Regions from separate parts of the Homo sapiens genome. Here region 1 is linked to region 2. A link means that fine-mapping ties the variant in region 2 to the expression of a gene that starts in the linked region. Tissue or cell type: macrophages. Region 2 holds a variant in brackets; the other region holds the start of a gene. All regions are shown on one strand. Distances are from middle to middle.

Region 1 (6,757 bases), 20 kb after region 2:
TAAGTTTTTTTAAAAAAGCATATGATCATCTTAATGATGCAGAATATACAATTGATAAAATTCAACATGTACCTACACCAAAAACAAATTTGGAATCGAAGAAAACATCTTTTATCTACTAAGTGACGTCTACAAAAAACCTGCAGCAAACATCATACTGAAAAATGAAATGTTGGCAGCAATCACTTTAAAAACCAAATTGACCCAATGCAATTGAATCAATGCTATTACAGTCAGCATCCCAAGAGGCTTTGTGTATGTGTGTGTGTGATTTGACAAGATGATTCTAAAAATTTACATAGAAAACACAAAGGCAAAACAGCAAAGACATTCCTGGGAGAAAATAAAGGCAGAAGGACTTGTCCTACCAGCTATAAAGACTTCTCATATTTGCTGGGCGCGATGGCTCATGCCTGTAATCCCAGCACTTTGGGAGGCTGACGTGGGCAGATTGCTTGAGCCCAAGAGTTCAACACCAGCCTGGGCAATGTGGTGAAACCTTGTCTCTACTAAAAACAAAAATTAAAAAAAAAATCGCTGGGCATGATGGTATGCACCTGTAGTCCCAGGTACTCATGATACTGAGGTGGGAGGACTGCTTCAGCTCGGGATGTCGAGGCTACAGTGAGTCATGATTGCACCACTGCATTCCAGCCAGGATGACAGAGTAAGATCCTGTCTAAAAACAAACCAAAACAAAAAAAGCACTTCTTATAAAGCTAGAGTAACGAGTACAGTGTGGTAATGGTACAGAGATAGACAAATAAGACCAATCAATGGAACAGAACAGAGAACTCAGAAACGGAAAGGTATACATATATGGATACTTGATGGCGGATGAAAGCAAACTTTCCAATAAAAGGTGCCAGGAAAACTTGTTATCCATATGTAAAAAAATGAATAAAATTTGATTCTTACCTCATACTATATACAAACATCAATTCTGAAGGGATAAGGTCATAATAAGGAAAAATACTGTAAGACTTTTAGGCAATATAGAGAATATATTTATCACCTAAGGGTAGGGAAGGATTTCTTTAAGAGATATAAAAAGTACAGGTCATAAAGGAATATACTGATAAACTTGACTTTTGTTAAAATTAAGGGCCTCTATTCACCAAAAATACCAGAAAGGTGGGGGTTAGGGGATACAAACTGGAGGGCATTTAAAACAAACATAAGCTACAAAATACAAAAGATTCATATTCAGACTATATAAGGAATTCCTACAAATCAGCATGGGAAACACAACTGTAAAAGAGAAATGGGCAACAGAAATTTTACAAAAAGAGGATGCATAAATGATGAATAAATACAGAAAAAAGATGCTCAATCTCAATGTTATCAGACAAATGATTATGAAAACCACAGTGAAGGAATGTCTTAGCCACCACCAGACAGGCAAAAATTTTAAAAGAATGGCTGAGGCTGAAACTTTCATCTGCTGCTGGGAGAGTATAAATTCTTTTCCTTTTTTTTTTTTTTTTTTTTTTTTGAGACAGGGTCTCACTCTGTTGCCCAGGCTGGAATGAAGTGACACAGTCATAGCTCACTGCAGCCTTGACCTTGTGGGCTCAATCGATCCTCTGACCTCAGAACCCCCTAGCAGCTATGACTACAGGCACACACCACTATGCCCGGCTAATTTCTGTATTTTTTGTAGAGATGGGGTCTCACCTGTTGCCCCAGCTGGTCTCATACTCCTGGACTCAAGCGATCCACCCACCTCAGCCTCCCAAAGTGCTGGGATTACAGGTGTGAGCCACCACTCCAGGCTGAGTATAAATTATTGTAACCATTTCAGATAACAGTTGATATTACTAGCAAATTTGCATATCCCCCGAAATCTACTATTAGGTATATACCTTACAGAAACTTCCACATTTGCCCTAGGAGATATGTTTTTACAGAAGCACCTTGTAATAACAAAAGTCTGGCAACAGTATAAATGCCTACCAACTGAAGAACTACATTAAAACAATATAATCATCCCATAGAATTCAAATCAGCAATGAAGACAAAGTAGAGCTCCTCACATCAACACGCATACTTCTCAGAAAGATAATGTTAAGTGCAACAAGCAAGTCACACAAAATATATTTTAGGATCCTATTACATAAAATCGAAAACTCAGCAAAAGCATACATTCATTCATTAGAAATACACACATACATGGTAAAAACTACAAAGCAAAACAAGGCAACAAGTAACACAATATTCAGGGCGGTGGTTATCTTTGAGGAGGGAAGAAAGGATTCAGTGGAGGGTCTGGCAATCTGAAAATGTCTATTTCTTAACTTGGTGGCAGGTACATGAGTGTTCATTTTATTTTTGTTCTTCAAACTTACACTTCCACACAATTGTATAGGTATGTTACATACAATGTTTTTAAATGTGATGGGCTGGGCATGGTGATTCACACCTGTAATCTCAATACTTTGGGAGGTCAAGGCGGGAGGACTGCTTGAGGCCAGGAGTTTAAGACCAGCCTGGGCAACATAGCAAGATCCACTCTCAACAACAACAACAACAACAAAATAATGTGAATATGTTAAATAACAGCCAAAATAAATGTAAATGAGAATGAGAACAGGATAGGATTGAATGCTATAATTTGGTGGAAAAGGAGTGGGAAAAGTAGGAGTGGAAGAAAGACAACCATAAGCTTGTTTATGCATATTATGTCCCTTGTCTCTATGAGAAGAGACTGTAGGGAGAATGGTGGGATTAGCATAGACATGTATTACCTACTTAAATAATTTTATTTTATACAAAAATCAGCCAGGCGTGGTGGTGCACGCCTGTAATCCCAGCTACTCAGAAGGCTAAGGCAGGAGAATCGCTTGAACCCAGGAGGTGGAGGTTGCAGTGAGCCAAGATCGCGTCACTGCACTCTAGCCTGGGCGACAGGGCGAGACTCTGTCACAAAAAGAAAAAAAAAATTACTTTTTTTAAAAAAATTAATTAAAACAGTTTATTGGCTTTAAATGTACATCAGTAAATTTTTAAATGCTAAAAAGTTATGATAAAATAATACAGAACCAAAACATCAAAGAAAATAGAGGCTCAGCAGCATGATTTCAATATATTTTCCCGGATAAACAGATTTTTTTTCTAAGTATATGCCTTTTTATTCAAGAACAAAAACTCCCTAAATTCAATGTTTAGAACTGAATTTTTTTTAACTAAGCCCAGAAAACTGGGGCTCATAAAATAAGGCATAATGTGGGCAGCAAAAGAAAAAAGGAGAAAAAAAATGGGAGAAAAATTGGTTTTAATCCCATGTATAATATAGGTTGGCTGGTTTTGTTTTTGTTTTAGCCAATTTAAGGCAGAATTATCTCTCTGCAACCTTGCAGATAAATCCTAGTGTTTTAGCCATAAGTTTCAAGAGTTCATATATACAGATAAACCAATTAAAAAAACCTTTTCGAAGGCTTTTGAAGCATTATATAAATCTTTAAAATTCCTATCACCCACATTTTAAGAAATACATCTATACGTTTAAATTTATTATTAAATTAATTAAATGCATTAATTAAATCAATTTATTTAAATTTAATAATTTTAAAATAGAAATGTTTGTGGAATAAGTAAATCTCAGTCATACCATTCGTGCGGGTGCTAACACAATTCTAGTGCTTCACATGCCCGACCTCATTTAACCCAAACCAGAACAACCTTATGAGCAAAGGGTCACTGACCCCATCTTACAGATGAGGAAACTGAGACTAAGAGGGCACAAGGTGACACACAAGAGTTGGTGGCAGAGATAGACGTGACCATACAACAGCACAGTTCCTGTTTTCAAGGACACTCTCTATCCAGCGAGAGTGAGAAAAGTGAGTGAACAGAACAACTACAATCCAGGTCCCTCATCTGCAACCCTCAAATCTAAAAAGGTATGAATACTAGTGGATGATCGGATGCAGGGGAAAAAAAAAAAAAAGTCTGAATACCAAAACTTGTTTAAGTTGGAAAACTTGACCTGACTTAAGGTGAGGCTATTTATGGTTATTTATCCCAACAGTGTAAATATATGCATTTTTTTTTTTGAGACGGAGTTTCGCTCTTGTTGCCCAAGCTGGAGTGAAGTGGCACGATCTTGATTCACTGCAACCTCCGCCTCCCGGGTTCAAGCGATTCTCCTGCCTCAGCCTTCCGTCTCAGCCTCCCGAGTAGCTGGGATTACAGGCACGCACCACCACGCCCGGCTAATTTTTTGTATTTTTAGTAGAGACAGGGTTTCACCATATTAGCCAGGCTGGTTTCGAACTCCGAACCTCAGGTGATCCGCCCCCCTCAGCTTCCCAAAGTGCTGGAATTATAGCCGTGGGCCACCGCGACCAGGTCAATGTAATATATGCGTATCTTCATAACTTTAGCTGTGGAAAGGGTCGTGTATTTGATTACAAGCCGCTGCTCCAGCCCCCTCTGAGGGTGAAACCTAACATAGAACATAGGGACTTTACCTTTCCAAACTCCGAGAACTCCTCGATTTTAAACGCATCTGGCCTCGGGGCTGTAACATAAGCGGCTGCGGACTTGTACAAAGTAAGAAACTCCGTACACAAAACAGAGGGGAGCACGGAGGGCGGCGGGACAAAGAGGGTGGTCGGCAAAGGCTGTATTTTCCATAGATGTAATCACAGTTTGAATCGAATTTTATATTTTGCTTTTTCACCTGTTACAATGAAAAGTATCTTTACCTGTTAAATCGTAATTACGATTAAAAATATTTTTCACTAAATAGTAAGATTTTTAGATGTCTGCGTGTGTGTTGCGGGAGGACATCCCAGTCCGCTGTTTTCTGCGGCCCCTGTCTGGGCCTCAGTTTCCCCATCAAGAAGGGGGAAACCCCAAGACCCCAGTCCCCGAGTTCCACAGCCCACGGGGACCGACCCCGGGGCCGGACCCCACTGCCTGTCTCGCCCACCCCACCTTCCGTCCTCCCCTCGCCTTCCTTGAAGTCCCTCTTCTTTCCCCTCCAACCCCTAGCTCCCCACGTTACCCACCAGGGAGCCCAAGCGCATCCCAGGCCGCGCTAGCGGATACGGTCGCAAGGTGGACTCTTCTTCCTTTGAGGCGGGGCGAACGCGAACGCGGCGTTCCCATTGGTGGCCTGCGGCTTATTCGCCCGTCCGTTGAGTGACGCACTTCCGGTTCTCCGTTTGCGCCATTGCCCTGGTGGTTCCGCCTCGTGGGTTAGATCCCAAATTACGCCCGCTCTCGATCCTTAATAATGGGAAGGGGCTTCCACTTGTCGCCCTCCGCCTCCTGCACCTCAGTGACTTCCCTGACCAAGGAGGAAGAATTGGCGTGCAGCCTGGGCTTCCCTCAATGGCCACCATTCCGCTGGCACAATGTAGTGCCCTGCCCCGGGCCTCAGTTTCCCCATCTGTGGAACTGAGTGTGGCCTCGACGTCAAAAATGTGGACTCTGGTCCGGTCGCGGTGGCTCACGCCTGTAAGTAATCCCAGCACTTTGGGAGACCAAGGCGGGCCGATCACTTGAGGTCAGGAGTTCGAGACCAGCTTGGCCAACATGGTGAAACCCCCGTCCCTACTAAAAATACAAAAAGTAGCCGGGCGTGGTGGTGTGTGCCTGTAATCCCAGCTACCCGGGAGGCTGAGGCAGGAGAATCACTTGAACCCGAGAGGCAGAGGTTGCAGTGAGCCAGATCGTACCACAGCACTCGAGCCTGGGTGACAGAGCTCAAAAAAAAAGAAAAGAAAAATGTGGACTCTGTGGTCATAGAGCCTGATCTAGAATCCTGGCTCTGCCACTTACTAGTTGGCAGGCGCTTGGGCAAGTCACTGAGCCTCAGTTTCCTCTTCCATTAAATGAGGATATTAGTTCTTGCAAAATAGTGTTGGTGAGATTTACAAGAGATAATAACACCTATATCAGGTGCTTAGCATGGCCATTGAAAAGTGTCACATGGGAGTGCTGATTATATGTTAACTGTTATCTTACCTAGGGATTGTGAGAAAGCAAGTGAAATTACTCGTGGAAGTGAATGGACTGCTTTGAGTCTTCAAGGCGTTAATTTTCCAAACGTTTGAATTCTATCCCTGGTCTGAGAGCTAGGGATGCAGCCTAGCAAGGGAAACAGGTAACTAATATAGAACAGCAGTACCTGCAAATATCTGTCTCTGTGAGGATAGATCAAATCCAGGCTTGGTCACTCACCACCCCTGTGATCTTGGACAACCTCTTAACCTCTCTGGGCTTCAGTTTCATCTGCTAAGTGGGAAAGCAGTGGTGTGTGGTGATTAAAAGCTTCAGCTTTGGAGCTGGATGGTCAACATGGAATCCTGGGCCTTAAACTCAGTGTCTCTGAGACATAGGACAAAGTACAGTCAGCTGTCCATGTTTACAGGTTCCCCATCTACGGATTGAAGCAACTGTGGGTGGTTAATATTTGTGGGGGAAAACAGTAAAAAATAACAGTTCAACAATAAAAATAATACAGATTCCGAAAGCAATACAGCATAGCAATTACTTATATAGCATTTACATTGTATTAAGTATTGTAAGTAATTTAAAGATGATTTTCAATATACTGGAGGATTTGTGTAGGTTAAATGCAAGTATTCTCGCATTTTGTAAGCACCCAATGGTTCTCCTTGCCTGCTTCCTAGACAGAACCAATTTATCAAGACAGGGGAATTGCAATAGAGAAAGTTTAATTCACACAGAGCTGGCTGAACAGGAGACCACAGTTTTATTATTACTCAAATCAGTCTCCCTGGAA
Region 2 (8,013 bases):
CTGTTCATACACATTTCATCTAATCACACCCACTGAAAACAGGTGGTCCATCTATCCTTGAGATGAGTGGCAGCTCTGACACCTTCTGTGGCGCTCTGGTCCCCATCCCTACCCATGCAGGAGCCCTCGCAGAGCTGATACAGGGGCTCTGCAGGGGACGGGAGAGAGGCTTCCTGGTCACCCCAGCCCCTGAAACCAGAGCAGTTCTTCCTGATCCCTGTTGGGTAAGTTTCCTCCTGCTCAGATTGCACTGAGCGAACTGAAAATGGACAAATCTGATGCCTACAGAGGCAGGCAGGAAGCACAGCTGCAGACAGCTGTGGGCACAGCAGGGAGCTGGCGGCACGCATTCTACCAAAGAAGGCAGCACTGCTCTGCTCCAGCCGAGTGCCCGAGTTTTGGGTGTTTACACAGAATCTCCTGGCGGTTGTTTTCTGTTTAACCTGGTAATTCTTAAAAATTACAAACACTATAGTGCAAACAAACAATGCCTGTAAGTTATATACCACTGACCGTTCACCGTCTCCCAATTCCGATGTGGGCAGGAAACCCGCTGTCATGAGACACAGTGATTAATGAGGTCACTCTGTTCCCTGACCCACCAGCTAAGCAGTTACTATTTCTCACACAGGCTGGACTGTGAGCAGCTCAAAGGAATGGACCGTGTTACACTCATTCTTCTGAGAGATTGAACATACAAACAGCCAATGGGCTGCAGCCAATGGCCAGACCACGTATAAAAGCAGAACTCCAACCCAAAATCTACATCAACCTGCCCAGAAAGCCAGCCCACCACCTCTAAGCCAGACCTGCAGGAAGCCAGGCCAGTCCCCTAGCAACCAGTCCAGAAGCCAAAACTAACCCACAATCATGGCCCAAAAGGACCAAGGCAGGATCAGTAACTGATACTACCCTAATTGATTTTATTTTATATTTTAGAGATGGGGTCTCGCTCTGTCATCTAGGCTGGAGAGCAGTGGTGCAATCATAGCTCACTATAGCCTTGAACTCCTGGGCTCAAGTGATCCCCCCACCTCAGTCTCCCCAGTAGCTGGGACTACAAGCACGAGCCACTACGCTCAGCTAACTTTGTTTCTTCTGCAGACCCTGAGGTCTCGCAATGTTGCCCAGGCTGGTCTCAAACTCCTAGCCTCAAGTGTTCCTCCCGCCTCAGCCTCCCAAGTAGCTGGGACTACAGGCATGTACCACCATGCTTGCCAGCTTCCCTAATTTTTATCCCTGTTTCTAAGAGACAACAAACCAGAGAAAGCCACATATGTACTTCTAACCAATCACATAGGACGCCCCACTTCTGGTTAGCTGTCTCCACCTTGCCCTGGCCAGCAGCCTCCACTCAGGCACACCTGAAGCCTCCCCACTCCTCTGCCTTCCTGGAGTCTCTGCTAAACCCAAGTGGAGGCTGCCTCTCTTGCTGGAGCAAGCTCTAAATAAGCAGCTGCTGCCTGTTCTGCTGCCTGGTCTCCGTTTATGTTCACACTTTATCCGTGGAGGACTCAATTTGGTGCCCATTCTGGGCTAAGCAGGGGCTAAGAAGTGGCTGGTATGAAGGCGGCTGACTGCAGTCGCTCTGACAGGCGCACGCCCTTCCCTTTCCCCACTCACTACAGTCTGAAGCAGACAACAGCCTCCAACATTCTCCCGGTGTCCCCTCTAGCCTTCTCCATCTGTCTGTCCTCCACATGCAGCTGAGTGGAGCCAGGTCCCAGCACTCAGCCTGGAAGATGTCTGGGGCTCCATCCCCTGACCTATGTTGCCACCTGCCTTTCTGTCCCCCACTCCCCCACACCAAGCTCCTCCCCATCTCAGCCCCTTCACTCATGCTGCCTTCCCTTTGGAAAGCGTCTCCCGCATATCTCTGCAGGGCTGCCCCTCATCACCCGAGCATCGCCACATATGGCAGCTCCACAGAAAGGTTTGAACAGAGGCCCTGGCCAAAGCCACACCCCAGGCCCGCTCTACCGAGGGACTCAATGCTTCCTTCCAGCACTTAGCACCCCAAACTACCACACTGTCTGCCTCCGAGTTACGGTCTTTCTCTTTCTAAGCAGAATGCCAGCTCCCTGAAGGCTGGGATCTGCTCATCCTATTCACCACAGCAGCCCAACATTCAGCTGACACTCAAGACGTATCCGTCCACGAACCGAGGAAGATGTGTGGTACAAGTGGTGACCATGCTTTGTGAATTTTCTAGGAAAACCCCAAGAGAATTCAGCCCTGTGGTCTATAAAATAATTCCTATCACACTATCATACCAGCACCATGGGTCTTCTGATAGTCACCCCCCACCACTCACCCCCAGCAATTGGGATTAGATGGCAAGTTAAGGGGCAGAAAAGGAAGGAAGAGGCAGTGGTGAGCATGAAGTGAACGTGTGCCCACAAGCACTCTGTGCCAGGCGCTGAACATACATTCCCTTGCTTAATCCTCAAGACTCTTCCATGAAATGAATGTGATGTCCCTTATAACACAGAAAGCTGAGACTCAGAAAAGTAAAAGAACTTTCCCCAGACCCTGGAAGAAACAGGACTTGAATTCATGCCTTTGAAAAATGGCTTCCCTGTTCCAGCCAGCGGGGTCTGTGGTAATCCCACTGAATCCATTCCCAGTACTTCCACGCATCAGCACATAACCTCTCTCATGTCTGGGATCCAGTTCAAAATGCATTCCCAAACACATGATGTGTGTGCTTAGGGGAGCGTGAAGCGCACAGAAATCCTGGCTCAGCAACTCCATGCTGGCCTGAAAGGGCTGCGGTGGAGCAGTCCAGCCTGGACTCCCAGGCTGCAGACATGAAGAACGGGCAGGACTTGGACACATCTAGGCCAGCAAGAGCCAGAGACACAAAAGCAACATCAATTTCCTTGTGGTTACAGAGCTTCTTGAACCCAAAGATTCCTGTCTAAGCACTTAATAACTGCCGGCTGTCAATTCTGTATGTTGAGAAATTCATCGAGTCACACGTTAGATGTTACTTTTCATACTCATTTTTTGCCACTTTTCAGTTATGATCCCAGACTTTATCTCCCTTGATTAACTGAAAGGCAGACCGGCTCTGACAGTGGTATGCTGATTAACTGTTCATCATTGCCAAAGGGGAGATCTATAAATGAAATCACTAAAAACAGAAGGAAAATGTACTTGGAGCCAGCTTCTAATTATGACTGAGTCTTCCTTGGAAAGAGAAGGTGCTTACAAATAGGACTACAGACAGGATGGAATACTAAACCAAAATGTCAACATCGCTGATTCACCATCAACGCACGTAGCCTGATGATGTACAGGAGTCCAGCGTGAGACGACGAAGCAGATACAGGCATGTCAATCAGCACGCTGGAAACAAACCCGGGATGAAGGCAGATAAGAGAGTTGACAAAAACAGAAAATCTTTATCAAACCCCAACGTGACCATGATACTTGACTCACTCATCTAGTTTTGACACATGTATTTCAGCGACCTGGTTTTTGCCCAAACATCAAATTATTTACTCTGCTCACTGAAGTATTTCTAAACCTAAATTTTTAAATCTAAAACTTCAGACATTTTTACCTAACTTGTCCTTAAAACAATAGATAATTTAAAACCTCATAAAAATTAACATTAAACATGATAATACAGTGTAATTAGTTCTAAAATGTTAGTGCTGGAGAGTATAGAACTGTACCTCACAGCAGTCTGGCAACCATAAAATAAGAATGAATCCAGGGAAGTATTTTAAAACTAATAGGTAAAAATGGGATGAAGAGTGGGATTATTTTTTGGAACAGGGTCTTGCTCTGTCACCCAGCTGGAGTGCACTGGCATGATCTTGGCTCACTGCCACCTCTGCCTCCCGGGTTCAAGGGATCCTCCCACCTCAGCCTCTGAGTACCTGTGATTACAGGCTCATGCCACCAGGCCCGACTAATTTTTTTATTTTATGTAGATACAGTGTTTCGCCATGTTGCCCAGGTTTGTCTCAAACTCCTGAGCTTGAGTGATCCACCTGCTGCAGCCTCCCAAACTGCTGGGATTACAGGCATCAGCTACTGCACCGGGCCAAGAATGAGATATTTACCTTGTCTCTAAGTACCTCCCTGCAATATACTTATTAATCACATAGAAAAAGAGTAATTGTACACTGGAGAAACCTGGCTGACCCCATCAACACCGTAGCCGACCTGGTAGGATGCAGAGAGAACACAACACCGCTTCCATATTATATCTGCAAAGTTAAAACTCCTAGATCTAATTAGGAGGAAGCTCCAGACAAACCTAAGCTGAGGAACATTCTACAAATAGCACATGTGGCTACTGAGCACTTAAAATGGGGCCAGTCTAAACTAAGTGTAAAATACATATTGGATTGCAAAGACATATTTCCATCACCCCCAATATGGTTTGGCTGTGTCCACCCAAATCTCATCTTGAATTGTAGTTCCCATAATCCAAACATGTCATGGGAGGGGCCTGGTGGGAGGGAATTGAATCATGGGGGCAGTTACCCTCATGCTATTCTTGTGACAGTGAGTGAGTTCTCAAGAGATCTGACAGTTTTATAAGGGTCTTTTCCCCTTTTGCTCAGCACTTCTCCTTCCTGCCTGCCACCATGTGAAGAAGGATGTGTTTGCTTCCCCTTCCACCATGACTGTAA[G/T]TTTCCTGAGGCCTCCCCAGCCATGCTGAACGGTGAGTCAATTAAACTTCTTCCCTTTATAAATTACCCAGTTTTGGGTATGTCTTTATTAGCAGCGCGAGAACGGACTAATACACTCACCAAGTTTCCTTGTGCCTCTTTGTAATCCCTCTCACCTACCCATCCTATCCCTCCTCTATGCCATCCCCATGCAACCACTGAACCATCCTGTCATTACAGTCAGGTACGCATTGTCTAGAATTTCACATAAATGCCTTCATATGGCCGGGCACAGTGGCTCACACCTGTAATCCCAGCACTTTGGGAGGCCGAGGTGGGCAGATCACGAGGTGAGGGGATCAATATCATCCTGGCTAACACAGTGAAACCCCATCTCTACCAGAAATACAAAAAAATTAGCCGGGCGTGGTGGCACACACCTGTAGTCCCAGCTACTCAGGAGGCTGAGGGAGGAGAATCGCTTGAACCTGGGAGGTGGAGGTTGCAGTGAGCGGAGATTGCGCCATTGCAATCCAGCCTGGGCGACAGAGCAAGACTCTGTCTCAAAAAAAAAAAAACAAAAAACAAAACAAAACAAAATTGCTTTATACTCTTTCACCTCACTTCTTCCACTCAGCAAAATCATTCTGATTCATTCATATTCTAGCATGTAGGAAGAGCTCACTTACTTTTATTGCTAAGTAGTATGGATTTATCACAGTCTGTTCATCTGTTCAACTGCAAATGGACAACTAGGTGTTCACATTTGGGGCCATTACAAATAAAGATACTCTATCTCTGCACAAGCCTTTGTGCGGGCATATAGCTTCATATCTCTTGAATAAATGCCTAAGAGAGGAATGGCTGAATCATAGGAAATTGCCACACTGTTTTCCTAAATGGCTGTCCCATTTTACATTCCCAACAGTAGTATATTAGAGTTCCAGTTCCTCCATGTTCTCACCAATACTTGCCTTGCAGAGTCTTCTTCATTTTAGCCATTTTAATACACATGCAGTGGTAGCTCACTGCGGTTTTAGTTTGCTTTTTTTTTTTTTTTTTTTTTTTGAGACAGAGTGTTGCTCTCTCCCCAGGCTGGAGTGCAGTGGCGTGATCTCAGCTCACTGCAACCTCCGCCTCCCGGGTTCAAGCAATTCTCCTGCCTCAGCCTCCCAAGTAGCTGGGACTACAGGCACCCGCCACCAAGCCTGGCTAATTTTTGTATTTTTAGTAGACACAGGGTTTCACCCTGTTGGTCAGGATGATCTCAATCTCCTGACCTCGTGATCCACCCACCTCGGCCTCCCAAACTGCTGGGATTACAGGTGTGAGCCACCATGCCTGGCCTGCATTTTTTAAATGTCTAATGATGTTGAGCATCTTTTCATGTGCTCATCTGCCATCTGTACAACCGATTTGCAGTGTTCAAATATTTTGCACACTTCTTACTGGGTTGTATGTTTTTCCTTTTCCTTTTCTTTTTTTGAGACAGGATCTCCCTCTGTCACCCAAGCTGAAGTGCAGTGGCACAATCTCAGCTCACTCCAACCTCTGCCTCCCAGGCTCAAGCAACCCTCCCACATCAGCCTCCCAAGTAGCTGAAACTACAGGTGCATGCCACCATGCCTGACTAATTTTTGTATTTTTTTGTAGAGACGGAGTTTTGTCATGTTGCCCAGGCTGGCCTCAAACTCCTGAGCTCAAGCAATCCACCGGCTTCAGCCTCCCAGAGTGCTGGGATTACAGGTGTGAGCCACCACGCCCAGCCGGGTTGAATGTTTTCTTATTTTTGAGCTTTGAGAATTCTCTATATATTCTGAATACAAGTCATTCATTAAATACATTATTTGCAAATATTTTCTCTTAGTATTTTGCTTGTCTTTTCAGTCTCTAAAGAGTATTTTTTAATGTAAATTTTTAATTGTGAAGTTCAATTTATCGATTCATTCTCTTATGGAGCATGCTTTTGGAGCCAAGAAATCTTGGACTAATCATAGGTCACAGAGGTTTTCTCCTATGTTTTCTTCTGGAAGTTTTATAGTTTCAGGTTTTACATTTAGGTCTATGACTCATTTTGAGATAATTTTTGTATTTGGTGCAAAGTATGGCTTGCAGTTCATTTTTTGATTATGGATATCCAATTATTCCAGCACTCATTTTGGAAAAGACTATTTCCACTAAATTACCTTTGCACTTCTGTCAAAAATCAGCTGTCCACCTATGTGTGGGTCTGTTATCTAGCTCTCTTATTTTTTTCCCTTCATCTGTTTGTCCATCATGACATGACTACCACACTGTCTTGATAGGACAGCCATACAGTAAGTCTTGAAATCAGGCAGGGTTCCTCAAGTTTGTCTTTTTCAAAATAGTTTTGGCTCTTCTAGGTCCTTTACATTTCCATGTGAATTTCAGAATCAGCTTGTTAATTTTTATAAAAAGCCTTGCTGGGATCTAACTGGGATTTCTTTGAATCTATAGATCAATTTGGGGAGAATTGATACCTTAACAATACTGAATTTCCCAGCCCATGAACATGCTATGTCTTTCCACTTATTTAAATCTCCTTTGACTTCTCTCAACAATGTTTTGTAGTTTTCAGTGTACGGGTCTAACACATTTTTGCCAGATCTATTCCTAAGCATTTCTTATTTTTAATGTTATTATAAATGGTGCTATTTTTACATTACCATTTCTGATTATCCATTGCCAGCATATAGAGAAACAATTGGTATTTGGATATTGATTTTGTATCCTACAACTTTACTAAACTCACTTATTAGTTCCAGAAGATTTTTTGTAGATTCCATCAGATTTTCTACACAGATGATCATGTTGTCTGTGAACTGACAGTTTTACTGTGTCGTCCTTTCTAATCCAGCTACCTTTTGTTTCTTTTTCTCGCCTCAGTACACTAGCTAGAACAAAAGTGGTGAGAACAGACATTCTTGTCTTTCTCCTGAGATTAGGGAAAAGTATTCAGTCTTTCACCATTAAGAGTGATGTTAGCTGTAGGTTTTACAGAGATCCCCTTTATCAGGTTAAGGAAGTTCCCTTCTTTTCTCACTTTGCTGAGGGTATTGTTTTTGTTTTTGTTTTTTAATCAGGAATAGCTGTTGGATTTTTTTTTTTTTTTAAACTCTGTGTAGAGGGCCAGGCGCGGTGGCTCATGCCTGTAATCCCAGCACTTTGGGAAGCCAAGCCAGGGAGATCACTTGAGGCCAGGAGTTCAAGACCAGCCTGGCCAACACGGTGAAACCCCACCTCTACTAAAAATAACAAAAATTCGTCGGGCGTGGTGGCACGTGCCTGTAATCCCAGCTACTCGGGAGGCGGAGGCAGGAGAACTGCTTAAACCCAGGAGGCGGAGGTTGTAGCGAGCTGA

Which allele goes with the higher level. Alleles are on the strand shown, and positions count from the first base shown. SD is a standard deviation of normalised expression in the study named.
For the expression in macrophages of the gene that starts at base 4,515 in region 1, allele G in region 2 goes with a lower level than allele T (large effect, 1.0 SD a copy in Nedelec 2016).

Evidence for each region. PIP is the estimated chance that this variant, and not a neighbour inherited with it, causes the effect.
Region 1: it holds the start of NSMCE1-DT, and the variant in region 2 is fine-mapped to the expression of NSMCE1-DT in macrophages (Nedelec 2016, PIP 0.95).

The regions. Positions count from the first base shown.
Region 1 is chr16:27,263,691-27,270,447 of GRCh38, forward strand. NSMCE1-DT (NSMCE1 divergent transcript) reads left to right here and starts at 4,515. Exons shown (of 5, transcript NR_037184.1): 1 at 4,515-4,554. It overlaps NSMCE1 (NSE1 component of SMC5/6 complex), which reads right to left and starts at 5,082. Exons shown (of 8, transcript NM_145080.4): 1 at 5,016-5,082. RefSeq lists a silencer at 4,976-5,055.
Region 2 is chr16:27,242,731-27,250,743 of GRCh38, forward strand. The region is part of intron 2 of NSMCE1 (NSE1 component of SMC5/6 complex); the gene reads right to left. Among named protein-coding and RNA genes, the nearest start is that of NSMCE1-DT, 21 kb to the right of the region's middle. The variant G/T (reference allele first, on the strand shown) is at 4,653.